2 separate regions of the Homo sapiens genome follow, and region 1 is linked to region 2. A link means that fine-mapping ties the variant in region 2 to the expression of a gene that starts in the linked region. Tissue or cell type: monocytes after Pam3CSK4. Region 2 holds a variant in brackets; the other region holds the start of a gene. All regions are shown on one strand. Distances are from middle to middle.

Region 1 (8,000 bases), 220 kb before region 2:
AAAGCAAACTTGGTTACCTTTGAGGAGAGGGGAGGGGCTGGATATGGGGTGATATAGGGACTCCTGGGGTGCTAGCAATGTTCTGTTTCTTTGACTTGGGTTGTGGTTACACATGTTCAGTTTATGATAATTTAATGACTTGTCCACTTAAGATTTGTTCACTTTTCTGTGTATTTGCTATAGTTCAAGTCAACAATTTAAAAAATTCAGTTGGGTTTTTTAAAAAAGAATGCAAAATTAACAGTTAAGGGAAAACAATAAATAAGCCCCTTTCTTTCCTTGGAAGTGGTGTCTTATCTTTTTGGAAGCCCCCTAAAGATATGTAACACTCATATTTATATTGATCCATATATAGCACCAAGCACCCAGAACAGTGTCTACAATAGCTCTTCAATAAATGTTGCAGAATCACTGGAAATCTGATTTTTAGACAGTTAGTCCTGGGATTGGGAAGAAAAACATTGGGTGGGGGAAGAAGTCAGATAGACAAGCCAATTTTTTAGCGATGTGGTTAGGGTTCTTTATCCAGACCAGGCTAAACATTTATTGCTATCAACTCAAAATCTTTTTAACCTTATATACTTTTAAAGTGACTATTTTAGAACTCACAGTTTTCTAGTAATTCAGCAAGTATATTAATGTACTATGGATTGTTATAAATGTTGGCTGGTTATACTTACTAAATGGAAAACAGATTTATTATGTATGCTGGATCTGTTTCCCAACGGTTAGTTTTTATGGGTTATAAAGACTTTGGTTGTTTGACTAGCTTGGCTTTTCTTCTCCCAATTTTTGATTAGGTTGTGTAATTATGAAGAAGAAAAATGGTGTAGGGGGATGTGTGTGGCACATGTTTAGTATTTATCTCTCTTGCTACACACATATATATGTATGTGGATGTATATGTTTGGGCAAAGTTTGTATAGGTGGTGATGGTGGACAGATGGTTCAAGGAAAGGACAGCTATCTTGACAGGTATACAGCTTGGTGAGGAGGGAAACTGGCAGATAATTGAAAATTCAATTATAATGCAAAAATTTGTTCTTATAGTCATGTAATCATTCCATAAATATTTATTGAATTACTTAAATTTGTAAAATATTGTTTTAGGCACTGCAATACAATGGCAAAGAAATCAGACATGATCCTAGCTCTCATGGAGCTTACATTCTAATATGAGAAACAAATATTAAGCAAACTACACAATTATTTCATGGCAATTATGGTAAGTGCTACTGAAGTATCTGTGCTATTGAATCACATGGAGTACACGAAGAATGAGAGTACATAACTAAGGGATCAAGGGGAAAGATGTTTAGCTGATTTTTAAGGGAAAAAGACTTAATTGGCAATGATGGGAGTGGGAGGGGCATAGTTCCAGGATATTATAATACATGCAACAACTGAGCAAAGTCTTGTTGGTAGGAAGTAATATAGTATAGTATGTCCAAGAACTGAAAGGTCAGCATGATGGTACACAGTGAGCAACAGGGACAGTGGCCTTGGTTAGGGCTAGTGTGGTATGCAGGGGGAAAAAACATGCAGGGCCATGTAAATTGGGTTAATAATTTTGCTCTTTATCTTAATAATTGCAAGATGCCATTAAAGGGTCTTAAATACCCACCCCAATGTAGGAAGCAGGTTAGTACTGCAGAAAGAGTGTTGGTCTGGCAACCGGACCTAAGTAAGGATTACAGACCCCTGAGGAAATTACTAACCTCTTGCTATAATTTAATCTGTGTAATGGTGGCAAGGCTGAAGTTTATCACAAGGAAGGCTGGAAAGTTTTCTTTAAAATGGTACGTGGGGAAGAAGGTAGTAGTAACCAGATGCAAAATGAGTGCAAACAATGTTTAGAAGGAACAGAAAAGTAGGCAGAAGAGAGCAAGATGGGGAAAGTCAGCTCACTAGGGATACTGAACTTAAAGGCAGCTGGAGCTAGTTATCAGTCATAAAGGAAGCTTGGGGTGGGAAGGGATTTATTAGCAAGCTCCATCATCTTCATCTGTAGCTCCACATCTCCTTCGCCCCATCATTTGTGACACAAATAAGGGACTTTCCTCAAGCTTATGTAATGTTATGCAACACAGTTTCAAGCACTCCAATCCTGGAGATTTGCTCAAATTAAACCCTTTCTATTTAAAAACTCTGGAGCAGCGAGTGAAAGCAACTCACTACTCTGCAGGACAAGACTCTGTGTGTGTGTGTGTGTGTGTGTGTGTGTGTGTGTGTGTGTGTGTGTGTGTGAGTTTTGGGGGAGGAGCAGTTAGAAGGAATTAACTGGGTCACTTAATTCCAAAGTGTTAATGATAAGTGGGACCTTGGAGATCACCTCTAAAGCACACCCCTAACTTTGCAGATTAGAAAACAGGAACTTTCGAGATGAGGTGCCTTTCCCAAGGTGACACTAAGTGGAGGAGCCCAGCCAGAGTCCAGGGGTCCTTACACAACCTTCGGTGGTCTCTCTTTACCTGTGAAGCTGCAGCCTGCTTCCCAGCTCGGGGGCGTGTACAGGAGACTGGACCTGGGGCAGCCTCAGAATGCCTGGCTGCCTGGAGCTCTCCTCGCGTGTCCAGGCGGCCTGCTTGGTCTCCCTCCTCTCCCCTCTTAGGTGCCGGGGCGGGCACCCGGTGCAGGGTGGGCACGGCGCCTGCCACCAGCCTCAGGCGCTGGGAGAAGCGCAGGTTCTTCTGGATAACCGAAGAGACGTCAAAACAGGCTGGGGCAAAGTGGTCAGAGCAGATGACCGAGCGGTCATTGCCTCCGTACCAGTCGGCGCGGCAACCCCGCACGAAGCGGTCCCAGAGCAGCCGCACGGCCCGGTCCTTGGGAAAGCGGAACAGCGACTTCCCAGACTTGGTGGTGTTGCCGCAGTGGGCGGCCACACAACGGGCCGGCATGGCGGCCGTCTTCGGTGCGCGGGAGCCGGGTTCCCTGGACCTTCGCCCTTGGGCACGCTCCTCGCAGCGGCCTCGGCGAGGCAAGTCCTCCCCTCCTCACCTGTCCACTCCGGGTCGGGATTGTTTCCTTCCCTACCTCTGGTCACCGGAAGTGGCGATCTGGGGCCCCCAATGGGAGGGCTCTTTGATATCTTCCTCCTCCTCCTCCCTGCGCTGCTCCCCAGGAGCCAGTGGACACAAGCAGAGGGATACAAATTTCGCGCGGGCAGCGCTGAGGTGGGCCGTAAAGAGGAACGGACCGGAAGTGGTGGTGGTTATAGCAACCAGTGTGGCCAGCCTCTTCCCCAGCTTATCCTCCTCCCAATACTCCCGCTCTGTTTTTATGAGGCTGGGAAAATAGAACGAGGAAGTGGTGACGCACTGGGCTCTCACGAATACAACTAGAAGCTGCAACGACTGTGTGGCTCTATCGATTCGGGAGAGGTCCAGACCGGAAATGGTCGTTTCCATGGTAACCCTGAGCAGGTTGCCTGGGAGATGACCTCTTTCGGGTCTCTTTGAATCTCCGCTGTAGCGTCACCTGGAAGGCAGATCTAACAGAGAACCTGGACTGTCTCCTATCATGATTCCCGGGAAATATCGCTCTGTTTCTGGCCGGGCTGCGAACAACGTAAGTTGGGCCTTCTACTTTCTCTTTCTTCCCACTGGTACTCTTTCTGACTGGCGTCTTTGTCCTAGGAGATGGGCTGTATTATTAGGACCGGCACCGCTGGGTCTACTCAAGCTATTGTCTGACCAGGGTTTGAGGTTCGTGGGCTGGACCAAGGCACAATTTAATATTGTATGATGGGTACTCAAAGTCTTGTCCAGGATCTGGGCTCCCCAGAAGGTGGAGCTGGTCTGCTGTGAAAGGCTTGGGTTTATTTAAATTCCTTTGGCCAGTCAATTCCTTTTTCTTTTCTTTTCCTTTTAACTGTGAAGAGAATTTATCATTAGGGACTCCCACCTCCTTCACCTGTCTCATTGAGATGTTTATTTAGACCTGAATGGCAAATGTCGAAAGCCTGAGGTACTAACTAGAGGGTTAAATTGCTGCCGACATTTTGGAAAATAAATCAGTGAAACCTTTTAATTCTTAGATGTGATTTTATTGTTTTCAGCAAATCCTCAGAACAAGATCATTTACCAGAAACAGAAATAGAGCATTGTGTTCTATTTTTTTGTTGTATTTCTGTTTGTACCTTTTTTTTTTTTGGAAATATGTGTTTGTGTATTAAGAGCAAATTTTATGGTTTAATTTTTACATTTCAGGTGAACTGCGGGCTTCATCTGGTTATTCAAACATCATCGCTTCCTGAAAAAAACAAAGTAAGATTTAAGAAGGTTGGCATTTAAATTGAAGATTGTTTTAAATTCTACACAAATAGCAGCATGACTTAAAGTGTAGATAGATTCTAAACTGAAAAATTTAAGTAGATTTGCTTTGATTTCCAGTTTAAAGCTAGTTCTTACTTTCTGCCTACATAAAGCTAAAATAGCCCTCTTTAAAAAACTTAATGTGATTTTATTGATTACAAAAGGGTAAGGGTTTTTTTGTTTTTTTTTTTTGACATTTACACTTTTTTTTTTCTTGAGACAGGGTCTAGCTGTATCACCCAGGCTGGGGCGCTGGGGTGCAGTGGCACAATTTTGGCTCACTGCAACCTCTGCCTCCCAGGCTCAAGCGATCCTCCCACCTCAGCCTCCTGAATAGCTGGGACCACAGGTGCATGCCACCACGCCCGGCTAATATTTTTGTATTTTTTGTAGAGACAGGTTTCACCATGTTGCCCAGGCTGTTCTCGAGCTCCTGAGCTGAAGCAATCCGCTTGCTTTGGCCTCCCAAAGTGCTGGGATTACAGGCAACAGCCACCGCACCCAGTGATATTTACACATTTCTGAAATCAGGAGCCTTCTTAAAATTGATGGCATGTCATAGTTTAATTGGGGAGGTTTTTTTTCTTTCTTAATAGAGGGTAAAATAATGGTATGTCTTACTACTAATGACACCTTAGATAAAATGGTAATTGGGAGGGCATATCCACACATCCCATTTAAAATCAGGGAAGAAAAAAATAGGTTAGCAGTGGACACATGTTAGACTTAACGTTATTTAGAAGTTACGATATGAATATGAGATTTTTTTCCCCAAGATTATTTCCCCATAATGTCTCTAGCATTTCTAGAATTTCTGGCTTTTGATTTAATTTTTGAGATTTTGAGATAAACATGTTTTTCTTTCCTTTCTGTCTCACCTCAGCATTTATACTTACCTACTTTCTACACACTATGTCTCAAGACACAACATGATTTTTCCTCCTTTGACCAAGTTGGAAACCTCTAACCATCACAATTCAGGTGTGTCCTAAAAAGTTATTAAATAGGCGTCACTGGAAGAACTCTAAAGTGAAGGGCAGAGTTCACACATAACAGCATGAAGAAGGGTAAGAAAAGGCATGAGGAAGGTAAATGGAAGGACATCGTTAGTCAAGGAGGCAGCTGTTGATTACATTATATATGAATATGAAAATGGTAAACACTCAGAAAATAGACAATTTGATCATCTCAAATAAACAGCAGTTAGATTAATTGAAAATATTATTTATTATAATTGAGCATAATGGATTCTCTCCAGAGCTTTCCTAATTGATTTCTCTGGACAAATCCTTTTCCACCATTATAATGTTTCTAGAGCTGTGTGCCTCATCTAAATATTTTTTCCAAACCATTCACTTTCTCTTGTGTGGACATCTATTCTGAGAAAATACCTTTAGGTCATATAATTCCTAAGGATATAATGCAAATGCCAACATAATGTTTATAGTATGGATACATTAGAAGTATCTTAATTAATTCAAGATACATATTTGGGGTTTTTTGTGGCTAATCATAAGAAGTTGTTCTGGTTTTGTTTTTCTCAGTCCTCCCACCAGATAATTATTTTAGATCAGTTTTAGATCAAGTGAAAACCTTTCTTAGAAGGCTTAAATATACAATTTTATTATATTATAATAGGACATTTAAAAGGATTATAATGATCAAAACAGTGATTTTTTCAACAGCATTTTATTTATATTGTGTGTTTTTTTTTGAAGCAAATGATTCTTTTAATCATTGTATTTGTGGTGAGAGCGTGGAGGGATTGGAAGTGTCTCAGCTTGGAATATCTTGTATCTGACCTCATAAAATTGATCCTGATTTTGTGGGTGGTAAAATACAATGATAGAGGTGCAGCCATCACCTCTATCTAGTTCCAGAATTTTTTCATCATTCCAAATGGAATCCCTGTACCCATTAAGCAGTTACTTCCCATTCCCTGCTTCCCTTAAATGCCTGGAAGCCACAAATATGCTTTCCATCTCTATGGATTTGCCAATGTGGTATTTTGTGTCAGTTTTCTTTCACTTGGCATGATGTTTTCAAGGTTCATCCACATTGTACCATGTGTATCAGTTATTATATGTTTTTTTAATTTATCTTCACTGCTTGGTGTTAAATTTGTCTCCAAATATTTTTTTCTTTAATAATGTTTTTCAGGTTGAATTCAAGCTAAATAAAGACACATCGTCATTCCCCGGTAGACTTTTACAACATGACCTTGAAAGAAACTACTCAAGTAGGCAAGGTATTGTCAGTGAATAGAGATCAGATGTGGTTCATCATCTTTGAATAATATTAAGTGTTTAATAATGTTGAATTACTAGATCCAAATAAACTTGAATTTAAAATGAAATTGTTCATTGGGACCAAATTGGTTTGGTATTTTTTTAAATCATTGGTTATATATATGTAGCATAGTAGATTATTTCCAATACAGAAAAAAGCTGTTATTATTTTACTTTGAGGGTGGGCTATACACTAGAGAATGGAAAAAGAATGTTTCAAATACTGTATTAGAACAGTATTTGGAAGTCGCTAATTAGAGTAAGAGTATGGGAACACAAATATTAAGGAAATCAGGAAAGAATGTAAAGTCAGGAGTAGAGAAGAAACAATCTTTCCCTGTTACTGTCACATATAATTATAGATTTTATATTAAAGGCTTTAAACTCTAGTGTCTATCACTTGGGATCTTGGGATCTTGTTAAAAATGCACATTCTTAGTGCTCCCCCTCCATCTTCCCCATTCTGATTTTGTAGGTCTTGAGCGGGATTTGGAAATGTGCATTTTAATAATGTCACAGGTGATTCTGAGGTATATGGTTTGTGGGTCATCCTTTGACAAATACTGCCTCACATGATCTGGTTATATTTCTGAAATATATTTTTCAAATCAAGGAAAACGTTCCTTCACATTTGAATCTTGGTTTGTTGCTGACAGCCATTAGCTTTCTGTAATGTGCTCATGTTAAACACTTCTGAATCCACATATACAAAACTGCCTCTACCTCTTAGGAGTTTATATGAGAGGGCTGATCAGTATAGGCCTTTCTAGGTTGTTCATGTTATTACTGTGGGAACATATGGCAATTTAAAATATTGGTTAATTTTCTCTCTCTTTTTATTTCTGGACCTACTTCTTGGACCCATCTAATCTGACATATCTTTTCTCTTTCCTACATTCTACACTCTTGTCTTGGCCAATTGCTGGACATGACGTCAGCCTAACTGCAGTTCCACAGTGTGGAAAACATCTGTCTTTGCCTTATTTGATTCAGTTCAATACTTATTTATAAAGCAAGTATTGTGTGCCGATCACTGTTTTAGGTACAGAATTATAGATGTGAAGCCTCAACTAGGGTTTTTATGCTTGCATTGTCAATTTCCTTGACATTTTTGGTAACAATATCTTAAAAGTTTTCCCGAAACCATGAATCAAAATTAAGTACTTTCACTAAGGTTTTCTTGAGTTAGAGTAGGCAGTTAGTAAACAGATTTGAGGACGGCTGGCCAGGCAAACTTATTTAAGTGGTAAAGTATTACTAGATATTCGCTAATGAGGAAATAGTATGGATGTATTGAATTTTGTGAACCTGAGAGATGAATAAAGTTTTATACATAAGTAATGACCCATTCAGTATGAATTAACTCTTTAGGAAAAAAAACCTAATTGGTTTTTCA
Region 2 (8,262 bases):
ACAGGTATAATTAGGTTCTTGCCATTCCATAGGGGAGGCGACTGCAGTTTGGAGGTTGGTGACTTCTACGATGGGATGGCCAGAGAGCAATGGCGGTGTAGTGTTTGGGGGACTGACTGCTTTCTTTTATGACACCAAACTGCTGCTCATAAGCAAAAGTGTCCACCATCACACACAGAGTGGTGAAAGGAAACACTAAAAGAGAAAAAAAAAAAAAAGGAACGTGGGACCCAGGAACACTCTGGCAGCACTGTCTGGTGAGCCGCTACAACTAGCACATAGTAGGTGGTCTGTGTGCTGAAGAGAGGCAGGATGAAGGTGAGTGAGGCAAGGCAAAGCCATGAACTTGGAGACCGTGTGACTTTGTCGTTTGTAGTGCCCTGGTTTTATACATAAGCCATATCTGGCCAGTGTTCATTGGATATGCCCTATCTCTGAGATTTTATAAAAATTAATTCATTCAACAAGAAAGCCGGTTTGCTGAAGAGGGAAAATTGCCAACAAGGCCAAGGTGACAGCAATTTCAAGCACAATGTAAGCTGATTAGCCTCAAACAGAGAAGCTGCTTCCTGGCTGAGCTCTCCCACCCTGCTCCAGTTGTCTTGGAGATTTGCAGTCCTGGTCACAAGGGGTACCAGGCGGCAGTGTGAGCAATGGGTGAAGGACAGGACCTCATTATGAGAGTCTCCCAGGAAGGAAAAGGCAGACGCAGGATATTCTTTCAGAATGATGGATTTGCTTAAGTTTGCATTTATTTTTTTCATTACAAGAGAATTGTGGAATGATGCTTTTGCATTACCTTTTTTGAAAAATAAGAAATGTTCTTTTTCTCCCTCTCCCTTTGGAAAAACACAGATCTGATTACGTCAGTCCCTGCTTAAACCCCCTTAGAGGCTTCCTCTTGCTCATTTGAAAATGACAGAACTCATAAAAACGGCCATAAGCATCACTGGCATTGAATGGAATTGCACAGCACTCCTTTCTCAATTGTTAATAAAATGACATACTTCCATATCAGCTGATCAACAGCCACTACGTCAAGCTGTCCCCTACTTCTTCCACCCTGGGAACACTGGGCCTCCCCAAGGCCTCCAGGACAGCAGCGGGCTCCAGGGCCTGCTCTAGCCAGTGTCCTGTATCTGCTCTCTTTTGTGGACTCTGAAGCCACACAGCCCTTCTGCTCCTGGAGAGTCCCCTGCCTTCCTCAGGGTCTTTGCAAAGGTGTTTCCTTCTGTCTAGAACAGTCTCCCACGCTGTCCCCTTTGACTTTGGGTGACTTTTCTCATCCTTCCTTTAGTCGTTCATAGTTGGCTTCAATAAATGAAGGATAGACGGGAAAGTGACTGATCAGCCATGCTTGAGAAGAGGAGGCCCTGGGCGTATGCCGTAGATCTCCATTGTCTAGGCCTAGTTAATCATCGCCGGAAGAAGAAAGGGAGGCTGTGGACTGGAGGCTGCCAGCCCCGCCTTCTCCTTCTGTCTGCATGTCCTAAGGAGAAGCAGCCTCGGATCCGGGTGATGCCTCTTGGCTGTGAGTATTATCATTTGCAAAGAGGAAAAGGGGAAATAATCTGAATATCTGGGATTCCAAAAGTTGTCTTGTACCAGGTAACAAGAACCTTCCTATCTCCTCTGACCAGATGTGGGGTGAGAAAGAGGATGAGAGCAAGTGTGAAGCAGAAAAGGGAAAGAGAAGGAGATAACCTGAAGTGTGGCCTGAAGACTCCCTGACACTTCATGGGAATCCTTGACATTCCGTCTGGAAACCATTTTGCTCATGTCCTCAGAGCTGTGGCTGCAGAATTTTCTCTTGCCCAGTTGTGGGTTACAGGTCAAGTAGAGAGTCAGCCCCAGGCAAGGGCACAGGAACTCAGACTGTAGGTCAGCATTCCAGAGTTCCTGGAGGAGGAAGAAAAAGGACTGGGTTAAGGAGGCAAGCAGGGGAGGGAATCTACCCTGAGATTTTTAGAAACAGCTCAAAATAACAGCAAGTTGACCAACTCTCAAAGTGTTTTGTTTTGTTTACCATGCCTCCCTTATTTTCTTATTATTTGCTGGGCACAGGCTTGCCTTGACTTTACAGTCTGCATAAGTTTACAACCAGGAAAATGAAAGGAACAATTTTACAAGCATCGTGATGGATCCTGGTACCTCCTTCAGAGCTTGAAATTAGGGGTTTGAATGTAGGTCCATTTTCATCCCACTTCCAAATGCTAGCAACGTAGGGAATTATACGGGGGTTTCCTTTCCTGCTGGGACACAATTCTCTGAAGCACAGTTAGGATGAAAACACGAGGTTTGTAAGAGCTGAGAGCAGTGTTTTTCAAAGTGCAATTTTCAGAACTCTAGGCCCAAGAGATGTTTCGCTGGTAAAAGGATTCCACGTCAAATACATTTGGGACACTCTGCATCATCTCTCCCCTCTCAGGCAATCTCAGTGCTTATAAGTAAGAAAACTGTGTTCCCCATAAGTTTCCCCCCAAAGGGTCCAGCTGTCCTGCATTGCCTTCCTGTAATCTGTTCACACGTTGCTCTTATTCCAGTTCCACATGCCCTGAACTCCCAGAAGGTTGCTCTCAGCAGTGAGCCATTCATTCCTCAGAGATTTGGGAGCCCTCACCACGTGCAGACGCTGTGCTGCAGGCTGGGAACCACAGGAGAAATGGCTGAATGTTCTGTGGGTGTGGCTGTAGGCAGAGGGCTGATCAGTGAGGTGGGGTGGTGACAGTCTTCTATAGGATGTCGTATGCATCATTTATCAACTTAACTAGGACAAGAGAATGAAGGGGGGTACTATTAATAATTAATTAATAATTATAATAGGACAACAGGTGTAAGCTAGAGCTGTCTTACATAGACAGAACTGACACATGACAGAAGAGTTATGTTTCTTGTCTGTCCCTTTAGGAGCTGCCTCTAGGGCCAGTGGATAATAATTACAGGGCAAAAGGTTTCAAGTCAAAATTAAAAGGGAATTTCTAACAAAGAGCCTCTAAGAACAATGTGGCTATTTTATGAGGTAGTGAGTAGCTCACCACATCAGATATGCAAAGGGGTGACCCACCCTCCAAGATGCTGTGTATAGCTGACACTGACATGCCAGGCAGGCCCCCAGCCTAGGTAAGCACAGGCTAGCCTTTGACTGTGATCTGAAGCACATATTCTTGGCTCTCTCTTTCGGTGAGGGTCAGTAAGCTATTTTATATGCAAGGACCACATTCTGCTCTTCTGATTCATACGTGACAGACACATTTGGATAAAAGCAGAAATATAACAGGACTGAAAGATTAAAACTTGCTGTCTTAGCATACTTAATATTCACTGATGCTTACACATAATGTAAATATCTCTTTGTTTAAAATGAGTATAGGCTGGTCTCTGTGGCTCACGCCTGTAATCTCAGCACTTTGGGAGGCCAAGAACGGAGGATCACTTGAGCTCAGGAGTTTGAGACCAGCCTGGGCAACACAGCAATACCTCCTTTCTACTAAAAATAAAAAATGAAAAAAAAATTAGTCAAATGTGGTGGCGCACGCCTGTAGTCTCAGCTACCTGGGAGGCCGCAGTGAGAGGATTGCTTGAGCCCAGGAGGTGGAGCCTGCAGTGAGCTGCAATCATGCCACTGCACCCCAGCCTGGGTGACAGAGCAAGACACTCTCTCAAAATAAATAAACAAATAAAACAAGTATTATCTTGACTTTAAAGAAAGAGACTTTCTTGTGACATATAAGCAAAATATGGTCAAAACAATTTGACCAAGGTTGAAAATGGACTGGAATCACTTCTAAGGAGCCAGCCTAGGTCTGTCGAATCAAGTTTGCTCACTAATAATCATACTTTGGTTATGTCGGATGTTAACATTAGAGGAAGAGGGTGGGGGATATAAGGGGATTCTTTGTACTATTTGTGAAACTTGTCTAAAATTATTTCAAAATTAAAAAATAACAAACAAAACCACATCCTTTGCTCCTGAGCCCTGTTCGCCCCAGACATTATGTGATGAACTCACTCCGTTCTTTAAGATCCAGCTCTGCAGAGCATCTCAGATTCCCTGTCCTGAGGCAGGTACTCCTGTATGAGCTCTTAAATACTTCTGCATTTACCTACCACCTACTGGTATGGTTTTCTGACTATATTTCATCTTCTTCGCCTCACGTGGAGTTTCTTTTAGAATGGAAAGTTTTCTTCCTTTCCTCTTTGAATCCTAGCACCAAGGCCACACTCGGCACTGAATACCTGTCTCGAATGAATGAATAAATCAATCTTGTTTGAACAAATCTTATTAGTTTTGCTTTTTTAAAATTATGGTAAAATGTACATAACATAAAAATTTCCATTTTAACCATTTTTAAGTGTATAATTCAGTGACATTAAGTACATTCTAAAGTTGCGCAGGTTTTTTTTTTTAAATCAGTTCTAAATGGTTTAAACTGGCCAGTATTTACTAGAGCTGTTAGATCGACTTAATTTGGACCCATGAGACTCGTGACACTCAGAATTAATCTAATCCCATTTACACCAGGTGCCTCCCATCAAAATCTGTTTGATCAAGTGTGGAATTATTTCATCCCATTGGAACCAGCTCTTGAATCAATCAGAACTGGCTCTGCCAGGCTCCGGGCCAGTAGTCGGTGCTCAAAATGGTGTTTCTTTCTTTGGCCTAATCTCTTGAGTAGCCTCTTTCCCTTTTGTTAATTTTTTTTTTTTTCTGGAGGACAATCTTCCCTGGGAGCTCCCTTCTGCTCCCACGAAGCGCTCTGCACCCAGCCCTGGTGCTGCCTGGCTCTGGGGCAGGGAGCTTGCATTCTGCCACCTCCTTCATTGTCCTCTCGGTATACCTGCACTTTCAAAACAACCCCTGCAGGCAAGCTTTAGAGGCAGCGATAAACAAACAGGCTGACTGAAATTTAGGGAAACGCCTGT[A/G]TCTGGACAGCCTCTTCAAATATTTGTCACCCCCTCCCTGCTCTGGGGAAAGAAGAGACAGTTCCTCACAGTCACTCTATTTCCTGCCTTCCCAGCTCTGAACACCTTGGCTCGAATGTAAAGAATTTGGCTCTGAATTAGGACTCAAGAAACGGGGCCCTAGCAATTTTCCCTCCATTAACTAAACGCGTCACTTTGGTCATGCCCTTTTGGGGGCAATAATTTCCCAATTCGTAAAATGAAGGGATCAAAGTTTGATTTTTATCATTACTAATGAGAAGAATTATTATTTTTTTGCAGCAGGCTTTTTTTTCCCCAACAAAATATTACTCTGAATAAGACAAGAAAGAATCCCGAACGGCTCTGGCCGTCAGGGTGTGTGTGTCTCCTCCCCATGCTGTCTAACCCCCGTTGGAATTTGGAGGGCTCTTGTCCTTTCCCCTTGGCCTCAGAAGGAGCCCAGCGCGTCCTACCTTGCGTGGGAGTGTGTGTGTGACCAGGGCTCCTTCCTGCCCTTAGAGTCACCGCCCCCTTCTCGCACAGGTTTACAGCACCACTTGCCTCGCCCACTCCCCGCTTTGCCTCCGCCCCATCCTGATGCTGCCGGAATGGCTGTTCCAAATGGAAGGATGCCCGCGTCCGTCCCCTGCCCCAGTCCTTCAACAGGTCCCCACAGACCTCAGGATAAGATGAACGCGGAATTCAGGGCCTGGTCTCAACCGCCCTCTCCCTTTTCCTCTCACTTAGACGACCCTGGCCAGCTGGGCCACTCTCCACTCTCGCCCCCTCCCGCCCTCGTGGCCTCTGTCTAGACCGTACTCCCTCCTACTGGGTGATGTCTCTTCCCCTGGGACCCAGGGACCATCCCGTTGTTGACCTCCGGGGTCAGGGGTGCGGATGGGGGCCGGCCCTTCCCGCGGTCGCCGCCAGGGGGCGGCAGGAGCGGCTCCAGATGACAGCGGGAGGCCGCAAGAGGGGAGGGAGGAAGGACCGAGGGAGCGCGGATCCCGCTCTCGGATCGCAAACTCTGAGCCAGAGCTCTCCGCGCGCGCCTGAACCGCTGGCCGCCCGCGCAGCCCGACGCGGAATCGGGGCACAGCGGGAGCCCGTGCAGGGCGGGCGCGGGGCGGCTGGGCGGCGGTGGCGGCCGTCCATGCGGCGGCGCTCGGGGCTGCCCGGCGCCGGGAACCACGCGGGGGCGAGGCGAGGCGAGGCGGCCGCCGGTCGCTCCGGGACGCGGACCGCCAGGTGAGCAGAGCCGCGCGCCCCGCGTCCCCTGCGCGCCGCCCGCGCGGCCCCGACCCGGCTTCCGCTGCCCAGGCTCCGGCTCCCGCTCTCTGGCCGGCGGGGCGGGCTGGCGCGGGCTACCCAGTGGGTGTGTCCGGGGCGCCGCGGGCTGCGCCGCTCCGGGCTCGGGGAGCCAGCGCGCGCCTGGTCCGTGCGGACGGCTGCGCCTCCTTCTCTGGTTCTCTTCCTTGCTGGGAGTCTTGCTCTGTGCTGGCGCCGGCGCTCATCCCTCCACCCTCGACTCTAGGGACAGTCTTAAACTCTAGGGACAATCCACCTCAGTCGTCCCCGGGTCGGGGCCCCGTGCTCCCCGGGTCGGGTCGGAGGGGACCGGCGAGTGCACACCCAGCCCGTGCGCCCCCCACCTCAGCCTCGCCTCCCTCCCGCCTGGGGCCCGAGAGCCGGGCAAGTCTCGGTCAGCGCTCCTTGAGTCCTGGCCTGGGGCCTCGGATCTGTGTGTCTGTCTGTCTCAGTTTAGTTGCTGCAACCCAGCGAGCGCCTGGAGCCCGAGTGGATGGGTTGTTTCCGCCAACTCTGGACACTTCCTCAAGTGCAGCCTAAGTACCTGCGGCCCCTTGGCGCACTTACAGAAGTAGCTTTTGCACAGCGAGCTCACCTTGGAGCTCTACAGATCTGGAAGTTAAGTTTTCTTTTTATTTGAAATAACATCAGCCCTCACTTGGGAAGGGGATTTTAGGGCGTTCTCGGGCCCACCTAAGTATCTGGAATTTGTGGTCTAGTAAGTTTTTTAAGCAGTCCGCACCCAGCACCGTACCTCCCAGCCTCCTTTGCCGTCTTACTAAAAGTGCATGCTTGCTTCTCTTCCTGTCTCCTTTGCGATCTCTACCACGCTGCGCTTCGCCCTTTTCGGGCTATGAGTCTAAAGCTTGGACGTGGGTAGCAATCATTGGATGCCTGTTGGAATTTGGAATTAGAGAAATAGATACCCGAGAGAGATCTAAGGAATCGCCTTGTCCAACCCTCCTTTCACAGTTGGAGGCACCCAGGACCCCTGACAGTCTGAAGATTTTTCAAGGATCACACAGCTTTTAAAATCCGCGTGTCTTCTACTTGATTAATATTGTTGGAGGTGATGGAGTAACTGGGCTTACTAGGGTCTTACTGGGTCTCAATATACAAAGAAGCAAACATTTTAAAAATGTGACTTAAAATACGGAACTCTTCAATTCCTATAGATTTTTGTTGGCATCATAGTTGAATTCCTTTAGAAAACAAAATCCTAGCCCTGAAATTAATGTGAGGAAGCAAGCAGATGGGCGTCCTGGGACTTTCCTATAAATCTCTGCAGGGCTGGAGCAGGGATTTCCCAGAGGTCTGGGCCTGGGAAATGAGTTTGGGTGATCAGGATACTGGAGCCCCTTCTGAATAAGCAACTGGGTTGGTTTCTTGTGGGGAGGCTGGCCAGTGGAACTCATGTGATCTCCTCTGTGCCCAGCACTGGGCGGGGCACCAGCTTGGCATTACCTTCTTTTTAGTCTCCTATGCCATAAAGAAATATTTCTTACTGGCTGTTAGCGAAAGAAAAATACAGCCCAGAGTTTGGGAGGAAGATCAGGGGTGGGGAGATTTTTGACTTGGAGTTTGTTTTTGTTTTTGCCTCGAAAAACTTGTGGAGATTGCAATCAGTTATCCTACACAGAGGCTGTGTATTGCCGTCTTCTCCATCCCCCACATTTCTCTCCATGGTACCACTTTTATCCTAATTGCTGGGAGTCTCAATGTTTAAATGTTCCCAACACTCCCATTCTGTCCCCCACATTTATAGCTCATTCATCGCAAAATCTCTTCCACATTCTTTTGTGATATCTGAGGAATTATTTACCTGTCTCCATTCCCACTGCCCCCACCTTCAACCATGTCCAAATTACAGTAATAATCTCCCCTCTTGACTCCCAGCCACGAGTTGCTTTCTTCATTTTAATCCATCTTCTTTCATGCTGATAGATTAATATTTCTGAAATTCTGATTTCACCACATCATTTCTCTCAAGAAATCACAATGGCTCCCCAGTATTCACTTCTATTTAATTTA

Alleles and levels. Alleles are on the strand shown, and positions count from the first base shown. SD is a standard deviation of normalised expression in the study named.
For the expression in monocytes after Pam3CSK4 of the gene that starts at base 3,061 in region 1, allele A in region 2 goes with a lower level than allele G (large effect, 2.1 SD a copy in Quach 2016).

What was found. PIP is the estimated chance that this variant, and not a neighbour inherited with it, causes the effect.
Region 1: THAP10 starts here. The variant in region 2 is fine-mapped to the expression of THAP10 in monocytes after Pam3CSK4 (Quach 2016, PIP 0.95).

The regions. Positions count from the first base shown.
Region 1 is chr15:70,889,373-70,897,372 of GRCh38, forward strand. THAP10 (THAP domain containing 10) reads right to left here and starts at 3,061. Exons shown (of 3, transcript NM_020147.4): 1 at 2,472-3,061. The coding sequence starts at 2,900. LRRC49 (leucine rich repeat containing 49) reads left to right here and starts at 3,454. Exons shown (of 16, transcript NM_017691.5): 1 at 3,454-3,570; 2 at 4,212-4,268; 3 at 6,477-6,564. The coding sequence starts at 3,523. RefSeq lists an enhancer at 2,716-3,414.
Region 2 is chr15:71,109,528-71,117,789 of GRCh38, forward strand. THSD4 (thrombospondin type 1 domain containing 4) reads left to right here and starts at 5,944. Exons shown (of 18, transcript NM_024817.3): 1 at 5,944-6,171. CT62 (cancer/testis associated 62) reads right to left here and starts at 5,977. Exons shown (of 4, transcript NR_168260.1): 1 at 5,397-5,977; 2 at 4,104-4,236; 3 at 2,621-2,767; 4 at 717-1,899. RefSeq lists silencers at 5,758-5,807, 5,844-6,021, 5,868-5,927, 5,958-6,097, 6,248-6,337. The variant A/G (reference allele first, on the strand shown) is at 4,924.